Linked DNA regions of Homo sapiens. The protein of the gene in region 5 interacts with the protein of the main gene of each other region in a pairwise test. Each region holds a gene or a part of one and is shown on either strand. Other genes may lie near its edges.

Region 1 (3,500 bases), on a different chromosome or scaffold from region 5:
CATTCTCATGCAAGCCATTTATCATGTTCCCCACCAATACTGCTGTTTCCTAACTAGGCTTAGACTTACACAACCCACAGCTCTTAGATCTATTATGTCTATTGTGTTAAATTAAACTTTTATAATGTACATCAGTTTCTGTCCTAACACCCAGATATCACCATTATTTTGTTCTTTCTGAAAACATATAATTATTAGATATGCAGTTTATACATTTTATCAAAGACTGGTTTTATGTGCAATTGTTAAAATGATTGCTTTCTTTCCTAGATTAGCAAGTATTATATGCCACTATATAATACATGTTCACATGTGCCTATAGATATAGGTGCACATGTATAGACACATGTCTATATCCTATTAAGCCTAGAGATATTTTTTTGTGTGACCCATTTCTCCATTTTCTATTGTTCTCCAGGACAAAGGCAAGACTCAAAAATAGTATATGATTTACCTCTACTATTGCTCTGTGCACAATCATTGAAATATGTATGTATAATTTTTGGCATGAAAAAGCAATCTTTCGAAAATGACAATAAGAAATGTCTGTTGATCCCTTGCACTAATGAACAATAGAAAATATTAACAGCACTTGCAGTACTAGTTGATTATGGCATTGGCTAACTCGGTTTATGTGGATTCTAATGAAACATTTGGGAGAAATGGAACAAAATATCTCCCTGAGCTTAAGTGATATACTCAAAATGCCTGCATGTTGTAAGGATTTTTCAAATGCTGAAATATATTTCATTACAGCCAAACATCAGCAGGATCCCCAGGGTTTGGATCATTTGAAAATACTGTGTTCGAAAGGGCACCTTAATAACATTGTAAAGCTGGAAGGAAAGAGGGGATATGAACAATAGACACTTTTTTTAATCTCGGGGAAAAAAAATCCATCTCACGTTAGACTTGTTTTTATATTGGCTTTCCCTCTTCCCTCTTTCTCTCTCACACAATAAAATGCCTTTGAAATGCTGACACATAAATAATTTCCTACCTAAACATCTCAGAGCCTGATTCCATCAAAAAGAAAGGAGTAAAAAGCAAGTTACAGCCCAGCAGCACATCTGCTTTCCCTGGGTCCGGGGGCTGCCAGGAGGGAGCGGGAGGTCTGTCCACCTCACAAGGCAGGCTCTGTCAGCTTTTGTCACTCCCTGATTTCTTATTCTTTGTTACCTTTTTTCGCCTGACTGATTTTTACTTGGCATTTAAGTTCCCCTTAGCACTGCCAGATTCTAAAAGGTTATATTCTTTTTAAAAAAGAAGAGAAAGAAAGAAGGAAAGAAGACAAAGAAAGAATAAAAACCTCCGAGTGTTAACTACTTTTTCCTTTCTTCTTTTTTTTATAAAGAATACATTCTTTCACATCTTGAATTTCTGTGAATTTTAGTTTCCATTCTTTCTCCTTTCAAACCAGACACCTAAATTATACGTCGAAGACTGTTAAAAAGTTGTTTTTTTTTTTTTAATGGAAAATATCCAAGAAGCAGCCCAGGAGTATCTGACATGGTGGAATGGAATCAGTTAGAAAGCGAAGAAATCACTAAAAAAAGTTACTTCTTTTTTTCCCCACCAGTTATAATCTTCAACCTTACTAGTTTATAACAGTTTAATGTCCTATAGAAGGATCCTCCACTAAAGTTATAATTTTAAGTATAGTCATATAGAGAGATCCCTAATCCCCTGGGTAATCTAGATACTAAAGGTGGGGAAGAACAGTCATATTGACATTCTTTAATCCAAAACCACTGTTTGAAATTAGTAAGGATATTTTCAGCATTCCCAAAAACATGTTATTAGCACGTTGAGCTGAAAACGTTTTTCTTCCTCAGTGAGTACAGAAACCAAAGCAGTCTGCGTGTATGTCTATGTATAGACTGTATCGTACCTGGGCTCATGGAGTAGTCTAAATTTAAAACGTCCTCTCTTCTACCTCCAATGAAAATGTTTCCGTGTGTGGCGTCTGATCTTCCACCGTGTGTGTGGTCGTCTGCTGGTGTAGCGCTGTTTAAGGAGCGCTGTGTGCTGCTAGTGTTCCACGATGTGTGTGGTCGTCTGCTGGTGTAGTAGCACTGTTTGAGGAGCACTGTGCGCCGCTAGTGTGGGTTTACACTTATGAGTGTTGTCATTACATGTGTTCTGCTCTTCTCTCCCTCTCCTGCCCCTGCCCTGCTCCATCAGAGAGAGCTGCAGGTCTCTGCTGCCGCCTAGTAGTTCCCTGTCACAAAGGGATGCCAAGGCTTACCGATCTGTCTGTCAAAACCAAAGATGTCTGGGAAATCCCTCGAGAATCCCTGCAGTTGATCAAGAGACTGGGAAATGGGCAGTTTGGGGAAGTATGGATGGGTATGCTGAGACTCAATTACTCTCTTATTAGCTTCCCCGTTTGGAAGATCCCAAACACCAAAGATGGAAGGTGAAAATAAAGACTGCGTGACCGGGAAGAAAGTTTGAATTACTAATAGTGGGGAATAATAATTTCAGTTTTGGTTTTAACATTCTGGAATTCCTAAAAAAAAAAAAAAAAAAAAAAAAAGATAGTAAGTGGGCAAAATTGGCAAATGGCTCAAGTTGTACTATTACATGACTCTCAATTCATAAACCAGCAAATGGTCCAAGGAATGTTCCAGCTGCCATAAAATATCTTGCTCTTCATTTCCAAAAGCAAATATTTGTTGAGTGTCATCCTAACGGGCAAGTCACCTTCCATCTTTCCTAGTGCATGCATAATTATGGATTATAAGGACTGTGTTTTCTTTATTAATTCCCTTTCCTGTAGAGAAAGCTGATGGTTTGTGTTTTAACTTAACTGTGATTGCATCGAGTTGTACCCCACAAACTTCTGGATTGGCTAAAGATGCTTGGGAAGTTGCACGTCGTTCGTTGTGTCTGGAGAAGAAGCTGGGTCAGGGGTGTTTCGCTGAAGTGTGGCTTGGTAAGGCAGAGGGCACATTTTGTTTTGGCTGCATCTCAAAGCCGATTAAAAGGATGGTTTTGAACAAAAATGCACACACAGCCGTTGGGACAAAGACACTTAACCTGGATAACTAGACGGGCACAGGCCATCCAGATTTTCAGAATATGCTGATACCTTGCTGTGCTCATCTGTCCTACTTCATGTGGTTAATTAAGGCACCCGCAGAACAGGAAACCAGTACACTATGAATCTGGTGTTTCCTCTTCCTAAGAAATGGGAAGGTAAGATACTGTATATGGGCAGCCATAAGAAAGACCATGGACGTTTTGCTCAATGGGCCTGGGTTTGAATCCTTACTAGCTAATTAACCACGAACAAGGGGCATATTTAACTCCTTTAAGCCTCAGTTTTTTCATCTGTAAAATTGGAATGATACCTTTTTGTTGTTGTTGAGACGGAGTCTTGCTCTATCACTAGGCTGGAGTGCAATGGCGCGATATTGGCTCACTGCAACCTCCACCTCCCAGGTTCGAGTGATTCTCCTGCCTCAGCCTCCCGAGTAGCTGGGATTACAGGTGCC
Region 2 (3,500 bases), about 110 Mb from region 5:
AAAGAAGTTAAAGTGAGCCCGGTTGGCATATTTGTGCAAAAGCAGCTGTAGGGTTGGAATTTCCTGGGTTGGGGTGTAGCTGCGCACGTTGATAGAAGGAGAGTTGGGCAGGGCATAGATGCAGGGATGGGGATATGATGACTGGCTGTGGAATTTCAGCTGGGACTGAGTTACCTGAGCACATGGGGGTGGGCAATGGGCAGTGAAAAGTGTTCCATTCAGTGGGTGTCGGGTCTCAACAGACTCCTGAGCTGTAGTACTGAAGTGAGTGACCTACAGTGGCAGGAAGGTAGTGGCTGTATGTTGGGAAGATGGAGAAACAGCTGAGTGCAGTGGTCAAGGGCTGGGACACTGCAGCCCCACTGCTTGTAATTCAACTCCAGCTTGACGATTGCTAGCTCGGGAACCATGGGCAAATTATTTATCTCTGTGCCGAAATTTCCTTATCTGCAAAAGGAGACACGGTAAGAGAACTTATGTCAGAGTTATTTGGAGGATTGAAAGGTTCCTGTGTAATGGGTTTATTTAAATTTTTCAGGATGTGATCTGACCCATGATTGCTCTTTATCATTGCTATTATTAATATTATGTAGATGTTGCAGTCATTGGGAATGATAAAATCTAGGGGATGACTGTATAAGTGAGTGCCACGTAGAGGAGAGGAGAACACTGTTGTTGGAGATTAGGTCAAGGTGCAGAAAGGCAATCATTATTGGAAGGTTCATCCGTGTGCATACTGAAATGACCAAGATTTATTACCTGTTTAAAATCTTAGTAAGAAAGAATGTTTCTTAGTTAATTTCTGTATATATCTTACCCATCTGTGGTCAACAAATTATAGGAAGGGTCGTCAAATACTCTACATTCAAAATCAAGAATTAAGACATATGTGTTGATTATGTATGTAGAAGAAAGAAAATTCCTTAATCACTGATGAAAAAGGTTATTATATCATTTTAGCATATGGGTGGTGAACACAGTTGTTTAAAATTGGTCATAAACATTGTTTAAAAGAAAGTGTTAAGAAGTATAGATTTAAAGAGTATTCCTATAAAGCTAATGCAGAATTATGTTTTGTAAGTATTAAAAATTACCCAATTTTCATCACTATTTTTTTGTGCTTCTAGAAAGCATTTCAAGAAAAACAGAAGAGGTGGCAACAACCTACAGGTGTTAGGAGCTGGAGGCTGAGAGAGATGAAGCCGCTACTTGAGCAATTACTAAAGGTCTGTTCTATTTGGTAACATAATACATTATAAAATACAACACGTGCATAACAGAAGAAAGTCTGTTTGTTTCCGAATGTATGGAAAGACATTTTGGTTATGCATTTTAAATTACTTACCATTTTCACTTTGAATGTATTGTTCCAAATTTAACATAACTGGTAAATGTATTTTTAGGATTCGTGAATAGTTTTGTGGGAGTTATTTAGAACAGGAAAAGGTAAATTGGAAATTTTACCTGGAAATATACATCTTGTGTATATTGTTAACGCATTGACACATTTATGCCGGAGGCTGCACATTTTTTGTGTGTGAAGAAACAGACCTTGGCTATGTTCTTGAGCGGTAGGAGATACATGATTCCCACAAGCTTAGCGTTCCAATAATGGAACACTAGGCATAAATGGGTTTTAATGAAGATTTTATTTTCAGTTTTCAGGACATCAATGACACATCTATGGTGGAAGGCAGGAAGACCATAAATCCTTTCTGGATGTCTTTTTTACTTGTGTTGTTTCAAGAGTTTTAGTTAAATAGGAAGTAGGCAAGTGTAACTACTGAGTGTCTCTTTTATTTCCTGCTGTAATACAGGAGTGTTTTATGGCATATTCACTTTCAAAATTATCAGCGACTAGTAATGGTTTTACATGACAATTTGTAGTCATAAGAGATGGTTCAGATGTATAACAGAATGGGAAAGCCAGCAAATTATTAACACGTTGTGAATTGTGAATTATCTGCTGTCGTATAGCACATTAGCAAATTGTCATCAATGACCTCTTCTTCATGTAGATGTACATTATTTAGGTAACAATGGAATTCCCTTCTGGGAGGTAAGGTATTCTTTTTAATAACCTTGTGAAAAGACATGTTCATATGTCACTCCTCTACACTAACTGAGATGTGTTAAATAAACTGAGAAAAGAGTTTGAAAATAAAATTTTCAAGCAACTTGAGAATGATCTATACACAAAACAGTTATTTAAATAGAAGTCACAAGTAGAGAAAATGTTGCTATAATGTTCACCAGAAACCATTTATTAATTGGTATGAACATGAGACTAGAAGTTTTCCTGTCAATGTTAATGCTACATGTTACCACTTAGGGTAGGAACTTTGCTATCATCTTGGACTCTTCTAAGTCCCTTATCCTTCCCATGCAGTTATCATGAGGCAAGTTTTACCTCTGTAATGGCCCTTAAATTTCTTTTTTTAAAATTCCCACCGCAGCTGCCCTAGTTCAAGACCTCATTCTTCCTTGCTTGTACTATTAAACTCTTTTCTGAGTTCTCTCTTCTCTTCTGAGCCATCCTTCATTGATCGGCAATATTATCTTCCTAAAACCCTCCCCTTCCTAAAATGCTTCCTAGCCCTTCCCTCTTCCCAGCCTGTCAGTGATGCCCCGTCTCAGTTCTTAGATATTCAGAGACTCTCCCCTTTACATGACCCCCTCTTAGGCTTGCCGCCCTCTGTCTTTGCTCCTGCCTATCCAGGTTGACAGCTTTCCCTGAAGGAATTCACTGTTACTCTTATGCTTTTCTCATGCTCTTCCCTCACAATGCTTTAAAAAAATTTTTTTTTGACTAAGACCAATTTAAACCTTTTGCCAACTAAGTCAACATACGTCTCCATTTTTGGCTACATGTCTGAGTGAGTTGCCCTTCCATAGCAGTTATACAATTTTTGTATTAATTTTTTTTATTTGTGCATTTGCTCATGTCACAGGATTATGGAAGAGATTGTGCTTACATTTTTTACATCTTCCTTAGCATTAACATACACCATTTTCAGGAGTAGGAACTGTTGAACTATTTGTTGAGGGAATAGTATATATTTCAAACATAGTTACATTTTTCTCTAACTTGATGAGGTCATATCACCAACCATTTTATCCCTTCAATGGAAACCACTTTCCGTAGACTATTGCTGATAATACATGGGTCACTACCTGCTGAAAAAATATATTTCATGGTAAGCCTGCCTGACTTTTTCTGTCTTTGCTCCATCTTGACCTTAAGATGCTCATCAACCCATTTTATTCAAGCAAAGTACATGACAATTGGACCTGCTAAAATAATATTTCACTGAAATCTGGCATTAAAAAATTTAAGTGGGTATTTGGAGCTCCATGTATTGGTTACAGTTTTTTTCAAATTGAAATAAATAACCAGCATCCTTTGAATATTAAAAGCTGTTTCCTTTTGACATCTGATTAACCCTGTTTAAAACGTGAGATGTAAAGTGGTGGTTTGTCAGTGAACTAGACTTTTTCTT
Region 3 (2,390 bases), on a different chromosome or scaffold from region 5:
TGGGACTACGGGAGCCTGCCATCACTCCTGGCTAATTTTTGTATTTTTAGTAGAGACAGGTTTTCACCATGTTGGCCAGGCTGGTCTTGAACTCCTGACCTCATGATCCGCCCACCTCGGCCTCCCAAAGTGCTGGGATTACAGGCATGACACCGCTCCTGGCCAGGAAGCAGCATTTTTAAAACGTGAAGCAGACCAGCAAATGAAGTGCACTGACCTATGTGGGGTTAGAGCGAGAGTGTGGCTGTTTGTGCTCACACTTGCTGTGTGGGGGTAAGAGTGTGGCTGTATGTGCTCACACTTGCTGTGTGGTGGGGGTAAGAGTGAGTGTGTGGCTGTGTGTGCTCACACTTGCTGTGTGGTGGGGGTAAGAGCGAGTGTGTGGCTGTGTGTGCTCGCACTTGCTATGTGGGGGTAAGAGTGTGGCTGTATGTGCTCACACTTGCTGTGTGGTGGGGGTAAGAGCGAGTGTGTGGCTGTGTGTGTGTGCTCACACTTGCTGTGTGGTGGGGGTAAGAGCGAGTGTGTGGCTGTGCTGTTTCTCTGTGCGTGCTCACGCTTGCTATGTGGGCTCAGTTGCTGCTGCTCGGGAGTGCTGGAAACTCAACAGAGTTTCAAAGCCCAGATGCCTACTAAATTCTCACAGAGGAGTTCAAAGAAGGCTAGGCTCTGGGCACGGTTCTTCCAGCCCCCTTAGGGTCACCAGGGCCCCACTGCTTGGCCCCCTTACCCTGCACAAGGGCATCTGCCGGGCAGAGCTCGCATCCACCCGGAAGGTGCAGAAGAGACAATTAGCATGCAGAGCAGGGGCCAGAGAAGCACTCACACCTGTACCAGTATATGGATGTTTATATTCACGACGTGTGTGTGTGGTGAGCGCGGGTGCGTGCAGGATGGTCTAAGGCAGTGCTGTATCTGCAGTTTCCATTCAGATGGCCTTGCCCAGCCACGTGCCACGTGGGGTTCTGCCTGCCTAGTGGAAGAGACTCCACACTCTTTTCCCCAGGAGCCTCTTCACAGAGCCAGGGCTGGTCTGCCAAGAAGTGGGTAGCCCTTATTCATTTGCGCAGAAGTTCCACGCAAAGAGGGATCTGGAAAGAAGGTGGGAGCTTTCCCAGAAATCAAAGGCCCTGAAGCCTTCAGAGACAAGGTAGAGGACAGCCCCGGCTGCTATGCCAGACTCGGTGGCCACCTTTCTTCCTAGTCTCCAAGCAGTCTGCTGCAGCTCCCTGCTATAAAGGAAGGGGTGGGGGAGAGATGGTGAGAAGGGGGTACCAGGAGGAGGGGGCCACGAGTGCCTGAGGGACAGCCACCAGGGAGCAAGACATGACCCCAGCCAGGGGGAGGAGATGCCTCCTGCCCCGACCCACTTACCACCATGACATGAGCAGGTGGAGAGGGGGGTGAACCAGGGTCACCTGTGTTGGCAGCAGAGTGAGGAGACTTGAGCTCTCTTGGCTGTGGCCCCCTGAGTCCCCCTTTCAGGTACCTGTGGCCATTTTTTTTTTTTTAGAGATGGGGTCTCGCTGTGTTGCTCAGTCTGGCCTCAAAACTCTAGGGCTCAGGTGATCCTCCTGCCTCTGCCTCCAAAAGTGCTGGAATGACAGGCATGTGCCATTGAGCCTGGCTGCCAGTGGCCGTTTAAAATATTTTTTCTTTTTTTTTCTTTCTTTTTTTTTTTTTTTTTTTTGAGACAGAGCTTCGCTCTGTCACCCAGGCTGGAGCGCAGTGGCGCGATCTCAGCTCACTGCAAGCTCCGCCTCCCGGGTTCACGCCGTTCTCCTGCCTCAGCCTCCTGAGTAGCTGGGACTACAGGCAGCCGCCACCACGCCCGGCTAATTTTTTTTTTGTATTTTTAGTAGAGATGGGATTTCACCGTGTGAGCCAGGATGGTCTCGATCTCCTGACCTTGTGATCCGCCCGCCTCGGCCTCCCAGAGTGCTGGGATTACAGGCATGAGCCACCGCGCCCAACCGAAATATTTTTTATTTGTAATTCACCCTGTTTTAAGTGTAGGTTTCGTAGCTCGATGTGGCAGTGCATATGACTGTAGCCCCAGCTACTTGCGAGGCTGAGGTGGGAGGATGGCTGGAACCCAGCAGTTCAAGTCAGGTGGAGGCTGCAGTGAGCTAAAGATCGTGCTCCAGCCTGGGAGACACAGCAAGACCCTGCCTCAAAATAAAATAAAATGGGGCCGGGCACGGTGGCCCACACCTGTAATCCCAGTACTTTGGGAGGCCGAGGCGGGCAGGTTGCCTGAAGTCAGGAGTTCGAGACCAGCCTGGCCAACATGGTGAAACCCTGTCTCTACTAAAAATACAAAAAATTAGTCGGGCGTGGTGGCGGGCGCCTGTAGCCCCAGCTACTCGGGAGGCTGAGGCAGGAGAATC
Region 4 (2,676 bases), on a different chromosome or scaffold from region 5:
GGTGAGGAAGTCGGCACCGGGCAGCGGGTCCCGTTTGGGGCTCACTGGCTCAGAGGCAAATTCTAACCACCTTATCAGGTATGATGGCTGCGCAGACACCCCTCCCCAACCCTCCCGATGCTGACCTGCCGAAGGGACAAGGAAAGGGTGCACAACCGTGCCTGGGCTTCTCTGCTGGTGGCCTTGCAAAACCCCAGCAAGGCAGGGGAGCGCCCGAAGGAAAACAGAGCTGGTTCTTAGAGTATTGTGATTGCATTTTTTCTGATAAAGATAGCACACTGCTTGTCATAAGCTGTTTCCCTTGGTTTCTGTGTTTCTTTTCTAATCAAATTACCCCAGTTGACACACATTTAAGCAAATAGTTTCATTTCAGGTCACGGGGACTTAGCCCTGCAATCAAGGAACTGAATGAAATTCCTGGCAAAATACAGTAATTAGAAACACAATGAAAGCAGAATTGAAATGTCCCAGCCTCCCCACAACACCAAAAGGAAGTCTGGTTAATTTCCAAATTATATTTAGGATCAACAGGCAAGGGGTTCTTTTTCATACGGGCAGAGAAATTAGGACCAGACATCATTACAATAACCACACAAGACTAGGAATGTAATTATAAAATAAACCATACCCTAGCAAGCAAATTATTTTAATGTGTTTCAAGAATTGAATACTCTGTATGGAATTAAAAACAAAGAGAAAAAAGCAACGTGCAGAAAATTAATTAAAAAGAGTTAAGACACAGAAACTTCGAAATGTCATAAAATTACAAATACAAAAGCAACAAATTAAAAAACATACACGATTGCAGATTTCAGTAACATCAGTAGCCAGAACATACCCAATGAATCACTTAATCATCAAATATCTCGCTGATTTTGAAAGGGGGCTAGTGGTTGATGATTTAACCTCAATCAATCCAAAGGACATGACTCTTTCCTTACATTACAAGCAATCTGTAAAGATGGCTTTAAGTACCTTTGAAAAGGTGGAGTGTCCTTTCTCAAAGGAAACAGACAAGGAAGGGGTTATCCGCTCTGCCCCCCCACTACCGAAATGTGTACATTCATTCAACTCTGGTAACTAAGGCAACCAAAGGACAATTTCTTTTCTTTTTTTTTTTTTTTTTTGAGACAGTCTTACTCGGTCACCCAGGCTGGAGTGCAGTGGCGCAACCTCGGCTCACTGCAACCTCTGCCTCCTGGGTTCAAGCGATTCTCCTGCCTCAGCCTCCGGAAGAGCTGAGATTACAGGCGACCACGACTGCCTAATTTTTGTATTTTAGTAGAGACGGGGTTTCACCATGTTGGTCAGGGTGGTCTCAAACTCTTGACCTCAGGTGATCCGTCCCCCTTGGCCTCCCAGAGTGCTGGGAGTACAGGCGTGAGCCACTGCGCCCGGCCCCAAAGGACAATTTCTTGAGACCCCCACACACCTTCAGAACCACACATTCTGTTCATGTTAAAAACAAGAAATTAACAACCTCTAAAGCTAAGGACAATGATTCTGTAAAGTGCAAGAATGGTTCATTGTTTCCGCTTTTGTGGATTTCATGTTAAGAATACTTTAAAAGAAAGGGTGGGCGGGAGTAAACCAGGACCCCAGTCATATATTTGATCAAGAAATGACCCGTATGGCAAAGGTGAGACGTGGACCAGCCCTCAGGTGTCTCCAACTCTGTGCACACCACTGAGGTAGGAGCTCTAGAAGAAACGCAGACCCTCTCAGGGGGGTTAAGGTTTCCTCTTGGCAAATGAGCTGGGGGCCTGAGACAGTCATACCCACGGGCTGCATGCAACTTTGCATGCAACTTCACGAAATTCTAGAGCTGTATCACATCAGCGATGGAGAAGGGCAAGATCCAAGACAAAGCCACATGAGGCGAGGTCCTGGTGCTGCCATTTGTTGTCCAGCACAAATCAAGGGGCCGGAGGAAAGGGATGAGGTGGAAAACCCCGGCAGGCATTCTACAAAACAGTTATTAGCAAATTGTATCAAAAAGTATCAAAACATTTCAAAAAACTCTAAAAACTGCCAGGCTTGGCAGATGCGCAGGACAGGGTCTCCAAGTGCCCGTGGCGCTGCCCTATACTCCAGGCATTTATCCTAGAGGCCAGGATGCCACCCCCTCCCCTCCCCTCCTGGGCACTCAGAATCCACGGAGACACCAGGAGGTCTAAACCTCATCTGCAGCTGCCCCTCCAGGTTTGGGACCAGTGGACGGGGTTCCAACCACGGGCTCTGACAGCCACAAGGCCCATGAGATGCTGCTGCACCATGGAGGACCAGGGTGAAGGATGAAGGTCAGTGACTCTACAGGGGGTGGTGGGGGGTGTGGCAGGGGTCCCCTCACTTCCCACATTGCTGCAAGTCACTGAACGATCACTTGGCTTAGGGGCCGAGGTACACTGAACCACAGGTGAACACAACTGAGCTCACAAAGTAGGCCCCTGGACCTCAGAGGATGGACCCCACTTCCCCTCAGCATCTGGATGCCCACCTCAAAGGTGAACACCCCTTAGGGTGAGTTTCTGGGTCTCCATGAAGTCACCTTATCATGAGTGAGGGCACTCAATATAAATACACACGTGTGGTCCTGCTCAGAGCCAGGTCTGAAGTCCCACTTGATAGCCTCAATAAAATGGCAGAACAATAAAAATACCAATTGCGTGCTAACCA
Region 5 (3,500 bases):
CAGCAGCTCAAGCCAGTTTTCCTTTTCTTTTTAGACATACACGAATTTATCCAGAGGAGTGGTATGTAGCAGAAGAATCAGGGACTGGTTTACACAGCAAACCAGGCAAAGGGCAACCTGGCCATGGAGAATGTATGATTTAGGCTGAAGTGGCATGCCCTACATAAATGCTTGGTGTTCCTTGCTGCCTGTTTGTTTCTCACCCCCAAATTTCTATTTCTTTTAGAAAACTGTAACCATTTCAGACCATGGCACTGTGACATATAATGGAAGCATTTGTGGGGATGATCAGAATGGTCCCAAAATAGCAGTGCAGTTCGGACCTGGCTTTTCCTGGATTGCGAATTTTACCAAGGCAGCATCTACTTATTCAATTGACAGCGTCTCATTTTCCTACAACACTGGTGATAACACAACATTTCCTGATGCTGAAGATAAAGGTAACCTTAAGAATGGATTTGTGTTATGTTCTCTTGCTTTTTATTAATGATAAAAATGTAAACAATTTTAAAATTGTTATGAATGTCTGTCTTCCTAACTAGCATGGAAACTTCATGTCTTTATAACCCTCCCACTGACCCCATGCATGGCACATATGACACCATCCAACATACTGATGATATTTGCTGTCATTGCTTGAGTGACTTACTGTATACCAGGTATTATCCTAGTATACAGTAAGTCACCTTACTATATATATCCTAGTATACATATATATGTGTATATATATACATATATATGTATATCCTAGTATATATGTATATATATATATACACATATATCCTAGTATATATATACACACATATCCTAGTATATATGTATATATATATCCTAGTGTGTGTGTATATATATATATATATATCCTAGTGTGTGTGTGTGTGTATATATATATATATATCTCCTAGTATACAGTAACACACCTAGTGTGTTACCTGCAGCATCTCACTTAATTCTTAACAGCAACCCTGGGAAGTAGATGTTGTTTCATTTTTACAGGTAAAGGAAATGAGGCTTGATAAGATTAAATGACTTTTCCAAACATCACACAGTCTGGTAAGTGGGCGAGCTGGTGTTTGAAGCAGTCTATTGACCTGCAGAATTCATATACTTAACTATTATTGATTTCATTCAGTAGTGTGCATGAAACAAAGGTTTGATGAATGAGAAAATGCTTTACTAATAGCTACTTTATTTTCAAGATCGGGGGTTGGGGGGGGTGTCTCACTATGTTGCCTAGGCTGGTTTTGAACTCCTGGATTCAAGCGATCCTCATGCCTCACAGCCTCCTGAATAGCTGGGACTACAGGCATGCACCACTGTGCCTGGCTACTAATAGCTATTTTAAATGTGTAAAAGTTAAGTAACCTGAGACTAGGAGAAATGCCTCTTGTTCAAATCTTTTTATCATTTAGGTTGGATTTTGATTGAAAAGTAAATGATGATTAGTTAAAGGTGTAGTAGTCCCTCATTACACTCAGGGGGTATCATTCTAAGATCTCCCGTAGATGCCTAAAACTGCAGTTACTACTAAACCCTATACAGGAAATGCTATGTTTTTTTTTTTTTTTTGATCTGATAACTGACATGGCTACTAAGTGACTAACGGATGGATAGTGTAGACAACGTTGATATACTGGACAAAGGGATGATTCATGTTCCTGGTTGTGCAGAGCGGGACAGCAAGAGATTTAATCATGCTACTCAGAATGGCGTACATTTTAAAACCTATGAATTGATTACTTTTGGAATTCTCCATTGAATATTTTCAGAGCTCAATTGACCATGGGTAACTGAAACCAGGGAAAGCAAAAACCGTGGATAAGGGGAGACTAAAGTCAACATTTGCTGTTATTTTAAGACAATTTCAGGTCAAAATGAACTTGGGAAGCATTGGCAATTAGGCCATTCTAGTAATTCCCAGAACTGAAATGCGTGTTAAAATATTTTGAAGATATAGAGTGTAGAGATTTTATTTTATTTTATTATTTTGAGCTGGAGTCTCGCTCTGTCGCCCAGGCTGGAGTGCAGTGGCCTGATCTCGGCTTACTGCAACCTCCGCCTCCCAGGTTCAAGCAATTCTCCTGCCTCAGCCTCCTGAGTAACTGAGATTACAGGTGCGTGCCACCACGCCCGGCTAATCTTTGTATTTTTAGTAGAGACAGGGTTTCTCCATGTTGGCCAGGATGGTCTCGAAATCCTGACCTCACGATCCACCCACCTCAGCCTCCCAAAGTGCTGGGATTACAGGCGTGAGCCACCGCACGTGGTCGAGATTTTAATTTTGTTAGGGATATAATTCTCTTCTTTCTCCCCCTGCCCGTTGAGATTGAGTTAATGTGGTATTTGTAGTAGCTTAGCTCTTTGCAGATAGTGTTTCATTCTGACCCCAGAAACAGGTAGATGGGCTTTAGTTGCCTAGACCTGGGGATTAATAACTCATTTGGACTTAAGGATGTCAAAAGATCCTATTCGAAAGAACCAGAAGTAAATAAGCTCACGTAAAATTTGGGAGGTATTGCAGAATGAGACTTGGAAATCAAATCCTAGTGTTCTTTTTACTAATCTCTTAGTTTGAGAGTATAACTAAAGCAAATGGTTATTGGCTATCTTATCAGTTTATCTTTGTGCCCTGTTTTGCCTTTCAGAGCTAGTATAAGATATGCCCCTCACTTTCAAGTAGCCTAAGAATGAGCTGGGGAGACAAAGCTAAATGCTATTCCCGAGTTACATGGAAAAATTGGAAAACATTGAGCTCAGTCTGATTTTGTTGTTGTTGTTTGCGTTTTTGTTTGAGGGAGTAGAGGGTTCATAAATCTCTTCTGACAGTGTGAGGAAAACTTTAGACTCCCTCTCAAAAAAGAAAAAGTACACAGTAAACTTTGCATATGGAACATAGTCCCTGAACCCATATGTAGATCCCTGTGGTTAAGAGTGCCTGATTTAGGTCGAGAATGGTAGCTCATGCCTGTAATCCCAGCACTTTGGGTGGCCGAGGCAGGCTGATCACTTGAGCCAGGGAGTTCAAGACTAGCCTGGGCAACATATTAAGACTTTGTCTCTACAAAAAAAAAAAAAAAAAAAAAGCCAGGTGTGGTGGCGTGTGCCTGTGGTCCCAGCTACCTGGGTGGCTAGGGTGGAGGATCGCTTGAGCCCAGGAGGTTGAGGCTCCAGTGAGCTGTGATCCCACCACTACACTCAGCCTGGGTGACAGAGAGAGAGAGACCCTGTCTCAAAAAAAAAAGAAAAGAAAAAGAAAAGACTGGCTGATTTAAAAGTGTTCCCGTGTTCCCACAAGTGGTCCTGATTAGGAGGAGTGATAAAGGAAGGCTCAGTGTGTGTTAGAGTAGTGAGAAAGCTTGGTAGAGAAGTAGGACCTGAGCTGAAACTCAGCTAATGGTAGAATTTGAGTAAGCGGAGGATTTTGAGCAGGATGTTTCCAGCAGGGGGAAGCATAGCATATGCGGCAGTAATTGGAGAGCTGCCTGATTAAATCAGGCTGT
Region 6 (3,500 bases), on a different chromosome or scaffold from region 5:
AACCAGCCAGCAGTATACACAGGTGTTCCTAGTGGGTCTTAATAACATTAAGTGTCTGTAACCCTGAGTGAAATTCTTTTTAAATTCTTTTTTCTTTTTTGAGACATGGTTTCACTCTGATATCCAGGTTGGAGTGCGGTGGCACAATCTTGGCCCACTGCAGCTTCGACCTCCTAGGCTCAGGCGATCCTCCCACCCCAGCTTTCTGAGTAGTTGGGACCACAGGTGCATGCCACCACACCCAGTTAATTTTTCTATTTTTTGTACAGGTGGGGTTTTGCCATGTTGCCAGGCTGGTCTCAAACTCCTGGGCTCAAACGATCCTTCTGCCTTGGCTTCCCAAAGTGCTGGGATTACAGGTGTGAGCCACTGTGCCCGGCCCTGAGGGAAATTCTTTAAAAGCAAAATTCACAAACTTTTAAAGCAAAGTATCCAATTTTTATTGATTCTATAACATATATATGTGCATATATTGTAGTATCTTTATCAATCAGGATTTACTTGCTGATAACAGAAACCACTGCAACCTAGTTTAGACACAATGTGCTTTTGTTAGTTTCTGGCCATGCACAGAAGCCTCCTGCTTACAAGATGAATGGAAAGGCTGAAGGAGCAGCCTTTAGTCTGACTTCCAGGAATGACTCTCAGAACACTATCACATAACTGGCTGTCCAGAAGAGATGCTATCTCTGCTTACAGCCTGGAAGCTGGAAAGTCATGAAGATGCTGCCCATTGCTGGCTCCAGAGCCACATTATTTTAGCCACAATCCCCACCAGCAAAATGGATGCTCCTCGTCCTGCCACACCACACCCTGGGGTCTCTGTTATTGCTCTTCTAGAAAAATAAAATGCTCTGTGGCTGTTTGTTGGCAGAAACATTACCTCTATCTCATTTGGCCTTCCCAGTTTCAAGTAGGTACATCTGCATAGAGGAAGCTAAGTCACATTTGGAATTCAAGCTGAAAGGGGCTCTGGGAAATGTAGGCTTCAGCTTTTTTTGGATCCACCAGTGAGTCACGGCACACCTGTGTGCACAAATGGGTTACAAGTGTGTTAAGAGATAGCCATCTTGGACCGGGGGTGGTGGCTCACGCCTATAATCCCAGCACTTTGGAAGGCCAAAGGCGGGCAGATCGCAAGGTCAGGAGATCGAGACCATCCTGGCTAACATGGTGAAACCCTGTTTCTGCTAAAAATACAAAAATTAGCCGGGCATGGAGGTGGGCACCTGTAGTCCCAGCTACTCGGGAGGCTGAGGCAGGAGAATGGCTTGAACCCAGGAGGCGGAGCTTGCAGTGAGCTGAGATCACGCCACAGCACTCCAGCCTGGGCGACAGACCACGACTCCGTCTCAGGAAAAAAAAAGAGATAGCCATCTCCTGCCTTCTGGGCAGCCACTGCCCTCCTGGCCAGGAAGCTCCACACCTAGGTCTCCCTACAAGTCAGCGCAAAACAGGGTGGAGTCTGATGGTCCACCTCTCAGGCCCTGTGAATGAAGAGTATGAGAGAGATCTGTCCTTTGCTGCCTGGCTGTGATGTGCTGTGTGAAGACAAGGCTGTGCCACGTCCCTCGCCAGCTACCTAAGTGGCTTGCTGCTGAGTGAGCCACTGACCATCATAACTGCTGGGTAATTTCATGGAAAAGTGCAGTCAGTTGGGATTTGAGGAATGCCAGCTCCTCATAGGTAGTTCCAAGTAGATGCCCCAAATCTCTATCTTACAGAAACTTCTATTTGCTTAGAGATGTCCAAGCCAGTTGCAGGGTGACTACCCTCACAACACATGACATTCTATAAATTGGAATGTCATTGTTATTTGGAAATACTTGATATGAATAGTTCAATTGCATTTGAGGTCCATGTGTATTATCACAAAAAAAATACCATCACATTTTGTCAATGACAAGAAGAGTTGTTAGGCTATGTATATATGAAATTTTCAATTTTTGAATGTTTTTTAAAAGTTCTAAACTGTTTAATCAGCTTTGTGTAAAGAAAGTTTCTATTCAGTGGTAACTACTGAGAATTCGGAGAGCTGGTAAATGTCTCAATCAAGAATTGAGCTGGGCACAGTAGCCTGTACCTATAATCAGTCCTATCTACTTGAGAAGCTGAGGCAGGAGGATCCCTTGAGCCCAGGAGTTTGAAGCTAGCCTGGGTAACATAGCAGGGCCCCATCTTTAAAAATCTAAAAATTAAAATTAAAAAATAATAAAAAAGAATTGCATGTAGCTATTTCAAGAATACAATTTTATATCTTGTATCTAGAGCAAGATCAACCTTTTCATTAGGGATTCTGAAAAAAATATTTGGATATCTCACACAAAATGAGCATTTAATATATTTCCTAATTTTTTTCTATGTGTGCCATAGATCAGTGGTTGTTTAGGGGACAGAGAAAAAAGCAAAGACAGGAACCTTTTAGAGGTGATAGATATATTCATTATCTTGATTGTGGTTTCACAGATGTGTGTGTGTGTGTATGTACGTCAAAACTGACCTAACGGTACACTTTAAATATATGCAGTTTACTGTATGTCAATTATACTATAATAAAGCTATTTTTTAAATTATGGGAGAAGAAAACCCCACAAAGTACATTCCAGAAAGGTATTAATTTACAGTCTACCAACAGCTTATGCAAGTGCTTGCCTCATTATACCTTCATCAGCACTGTAATTCTTAAAAGAAAAAAAACTGCTAATTTGAAAGGCAAAACCATCTCTTCTGTTTCAATGTGCATGTCTTTACAAGTAGACTGAACTTTTTTCATGTTCATCAGCTCTTTGCCCATTTTTCTTTCATTGACACAAAGCAATGAAGAATGCTAACACTAGAATGCTAGTAAAAGAGGGATGCCTTTTTATCTGCCAGGTTAACTAGTACAAACTGAAAATTACTACCCTAAAAGGTGGTCATAAATATTCACAAATTTGTCAAATCCTTTGAAGAGGAGTCATAATTAGACACTCAAAACTGATGCACACTCAACATTTAAAGACAAAACCTTAGTTCCTTTAATAACAGAATATCTGCATCTTGTTCTGAAGCTTATAAGGTTAAATCACTTGGCCAAGTATACAAAACTAGAGGTTGTCCAATCTGGAACCAGAAGCCTGATCTCCTGGGACACAAGCTGAAGAGCAGGTGAGGATGAAATGATGTGGAACCAATGGCATAGCTGAGACTTCAGGAAAGGAAAATTCTTTGAGCCTTATCTTCCTCGTCCATAAAATGAGGGAAGTAACAATTAAATAATCACTAAATTTCCTTTCAGCTCTAACCTTTTCTAAATGCAAGCTGGATAAATTGATACAACCTGGCAGCTGTTGTCATATTGCTATAGTTTTTGTATTTTTTTTTTTTTTTTTTTTTTTTTTTTTTTGAGACAGAGTCTCGCTCTGTGGTCAGGCTGGAGTGCAGCAGGACCATCTTGGCTCACTGCAATCTCCACCTCCCGGGTTCAAGCGATTCCCCTGCCTCAGCCTCCCCAGTAGCTG
Region 7 (2,573 bases), on a different chromosome or scaffold from region 5:
TTAGAGTGCCTACTGTGTGTCAGAAACTGGGCTAGACACTGGGGGGACAAAGGCAAATAAGACAATGTCCCTACCCTCAAAATGCTTATAATTTAATAGGGAAACATATCTATAAATAGATAATTATAAAACAGTATGTTAAACACAATGATAGAGATCTGAACAAGGTGACAGGTATAGATAAGTGATTAAATACTTTAAGGAAGTAGAGAGGATATGCAATATTACCTATAAATAAACCGGAGGGGAAGTGAAATAAAGCCTGACAAACAGTTGCAGCTTTCCTAGGCTGAGTCAGAAGATTGCACAGCATAAAGAAAAATGAGCTGAGCGAGGACCCGGAGACCTGGGCTATTTCCACCAGTGCCAGGTGATCAACTAACTGACACTGGGAATCTTGGGCAAACCAGTTCCCTCCCTGTACTTTCGTCTTCTCATTTGCAAAATGGAAATAAGAATTCTTCCTATATTATTGAATTGTGATGGAGAGAAATGAGATAGTAGATAATTAAAATGTCTCCTCCAATACATCCTGATGATGACAGTGATGAAAGAGTCCAGCGGAGGAACCCCTTCTCCCCCTAGGCTTGCGTCTCTGTTCCCTGACTCTTCCACCGGTGGAGAGAGGAGGTGACTGGCACCCTAAGGCACTAGTTCTCCTCTTGCCCTTACCTTTCACATCCACCCGACAGTCCACAGATGCCTCCCCTAGGGGGTTCACCGCCTTGCAGGTATAGATGCCTCCATCAAAGGGACCCGGCTTGCGGATCTCTAGGGAGCAGATTCCCAGGTGAGTCAGGGCTCTGTACTTAGGGTTGCCTTGGATATCCATCTTGTTCTTCAGCCAGATGATCTTGGGCTGGAAGACAAAGATGAGGGAGGCAGCAAGGAGGGGCGAGGGTAAGAACCAATAGTCTTTCTGTGCTCAGTTTCTGGGACTCTGTCTATATAGAGATAATGGCTTTCTGGAAGGCTCCCTGTTCCTTATGTTGTGGGAAGGGTTTCCCCTTCCAGTGCCACCAGCAGTCCCCCAAGCTCCTTCTCTTGTTTGAAAACAGCACCTGAAACTTCATTTTCTTTACCAATATTTCTGACTGGAAGAAAACTGCTAACTTCCGTTCCGGGCTCTCAGGCAGCCCCTTTATGGATCAGAAGCACTGAGCATCAGGCTCACCTCTTGTGAACCATCCATATTCTGTTCCCACTGCTGACTTGTGAGTTGCCTCTGTCCCCTCTGGTTAGAGAGTAGCTTCTAGAGTGGGCTCTTGATATGCCCCTTCTGAGATGTTATCTCCATGTAGTCTTGCCCAGACTCAAAACCCAAAAGATTCTTGGTACAGGTTGTTAATGGTGTTTTCTGCTGTGTGTGGAGCATGATGACTAGATTGTAAATAGACAGAGAGCCTTGCTCAGGGTTGTGGCAAAAGGCTGAACTCTAGGCAGGTTGCATGTGCACGGCCCTGATGGGATGAGGTATGCATGGGAAGGAGAAACCACAGGGACTCTGTCACTCCTACCACAGAAACAACTTGAGGCGCATGCCTAATTGCCAGCAGGTCAGTAAGCAACACCTCCATATATGAGAAACAAACATTCAAAAGGAAATGTCATTCTCATCAGTCCGTCTTGGACTCCAAGCACCCCCCCGACTGTTCCTAAATACCGTGCTGTAGAAGAGGCAGATGGCGGTGATGGTAACAGATGTTATGTTACAGTGCTCTGCAACTCAGCTTAGGTTAGGACAGGCAGGAACAAGAAGCAGCTCAGCACAGTGCCCCCCAGAGCCCCCACTCACCCGGGGAGAGGCGCGGACACAGCAGAAGAGCTGGGTATTATAGCCGGTGACTGTAGTGCAGTCGGCCAGAGGCTGGGTAAACTTTGGGGCTTCAGAGAAGTCTCGTTGGGCAAACCCCTTGGTCTTGTAAACAGTAGCTGAGGGCACCAAGAGGGGCTGGCATGTAGCTTCTGAGATCCCAGCCCTCGTCGACTCTTTATCCTTAGTATTTTTTTTTTTTTTTGAGGTGGAGTCTCACTCTATTGCCCAGGCTGGAGTGCAGTGGCACGATCTCAGCTCACTGCAACCTCCAACTCCCAAGTTCAAGCAATTCTCCTGCCTTAGCCTCCTGAGTAGCTGGGAGTACAGGCGTGCACCACCATGCCTGGCTAATTTTTGTATTTTTAGTAGAGATGAGGTTTCACCATGTTGTCCAGGCTGGTCTTGAACTCCTGACCTCAGGTGATCCGCCTGCCTTGGCCTCCCAAAGTGCTGGAATTAGAGGCGTGAGCCACTGTGCCCGGCCTATCCTTAAGTCTTCCCAGCTCATGATCCCCATGCCTCCCTTACCTGCTTTCTGGATGTGGGCGAGGTCCGTAGTGATGGGGGCTGTTTCACTGAGTCCGCACTGGTTTTCAGCAAAGACACGGAAGGCATAGGAGTTGCCGATGATGAGGTCAGAGACGATGCAGCTGGTGCGGTGATAGTGCTCCAGCACCGTGAACCACAGCTGCGGGGCCGAACATGATGCCAGAAATCAGCCACCCCATGTGGAGCTACCAGAGGCCTGTCCCAACAT

Evidence for each region.
Region 1: the proteins of LAMP2 (region 5) and FYN interact in binary tests that used the Homo sapiens proteins (3 or more experiments, as listed by UniProt).
Region 2: the proteins of LAMP2 (region 5) and FAM9A interact in binary tests that used the Homo sapiens proteins (3 or more experiments, as listed by UniProt).
Region 3: the proteins of LAMP2 (region 5) and SPMAP2 interact in binary tests that used the Homo sapiens proteins (3 or more experiments, as listed by UniProt).
Region 4: the proteins of LAMP2 (region 5) and KLHL36 interact in binary tests that used the Homo sapiens proteins (3 or more experiments, as listed by UniProt).
Region 6: the proteins of LAMP2 (region 5) and FASTKD2 interact in binary tests that used the Homo sapiens proteins (3 or more experiments, as listed by UniProt).
Region 7: the proteins of LAMP2 (region 5) and MYBPHL interact in binary tests that used the Homo sapiens proteins (3 or more experiments, as listed by UniProt).

Annotation. Positions count from the first base shown.
Region 1 is NC_000006.12:111,698,953-111,702,452, reverse strand, and holds part of FYN (tyrosine-protein kinase Fyn), read left to right. Parts: intron 1-2,184; coding exon 2,185-2,349; intron 2,350-2,782; coding exon of another isoform or gene 2,783-2,938; intron 2,939-3,500. UniProt on the Homo sapiens protein: Non-receptor tyrosine-protein kinase that plays a role in many biological processes including regulation of cell growth and survival, cell adhesion, integrin-mediated signaling, cytoskeletal remodeling, cell motility, immune response and axon guidance.
Region 2 is NC_000023.11:8,791,384-8,794,883, reverse strand, and holds part of FAM9A (protein FAM9A), read left to right. Parts: intron 1-1,127; coding exon 1,128-1,226; intron 1,227-3,500.
Region 3 is NC_000019.10:363,637-366,026, reverse strand, and holds part of SPMAP2 (sperm microtubule associated protein 2), read left to right. Parts: intron 1-1,006; coding exon of another isoform or gene 1,007-1,102; intron 1,103-2,390. UniProt on the Homo sapiens protein: May be involved (but not essential) in spermatogenesis.
Region 4 is NC_000016.10:84,665,511-84,668,186, reverse strand, and holds the end of KLHL36 (kelch-like protein 36), read right to left. Parts: 3' UTR 501-2,676; downstream 1-500.
Region 5 is NC_000023.11:120,452,297-120,455,796, reverse strand, and holds part of LAMP2 (lysosome-associated membrane glycoprotein 2 isoform A precursor), read left to right. Parts: intron 1-226; coding exon 227-440; intron 441-3,500. UniProt on the Homo sapiens protein: Lysosomal membrane glycoprotein which plays an important role in lysosome biogenesis, lysosomal pH regulation and autophagy.
Region 6 is NC_000002.12:206,793,106-206,796,605, reverse strand, and holds the end of FASTKD2 (FAST kinase domain-containing protein 2, mitochondrial), read right to left. Parts: 3' UTR 417-3,500; downstream 1-416. UniProt on the Homo sapiens protein: Plays an important role in assembly of the mitochondrial large ribosomal subunit.
Region 7 is NC_000001.11:109,294,439-109,297,011, forward strand, and holds part of MYBPHL (myosin-binding protein H-like), read right to left. Parts: intron 2,505-2,573; coding exon 2,345-2,504; intron 1,933-2,344; coding exon 1,796-1,932; intron 860-1,795; coding exon 673-859; intron 1-672. UniProt on the Homo sapiens protein: Myosin-binding protein which plays a role in cardiac function. Seems to regulate conduction in the atria and ventricular conduction systems.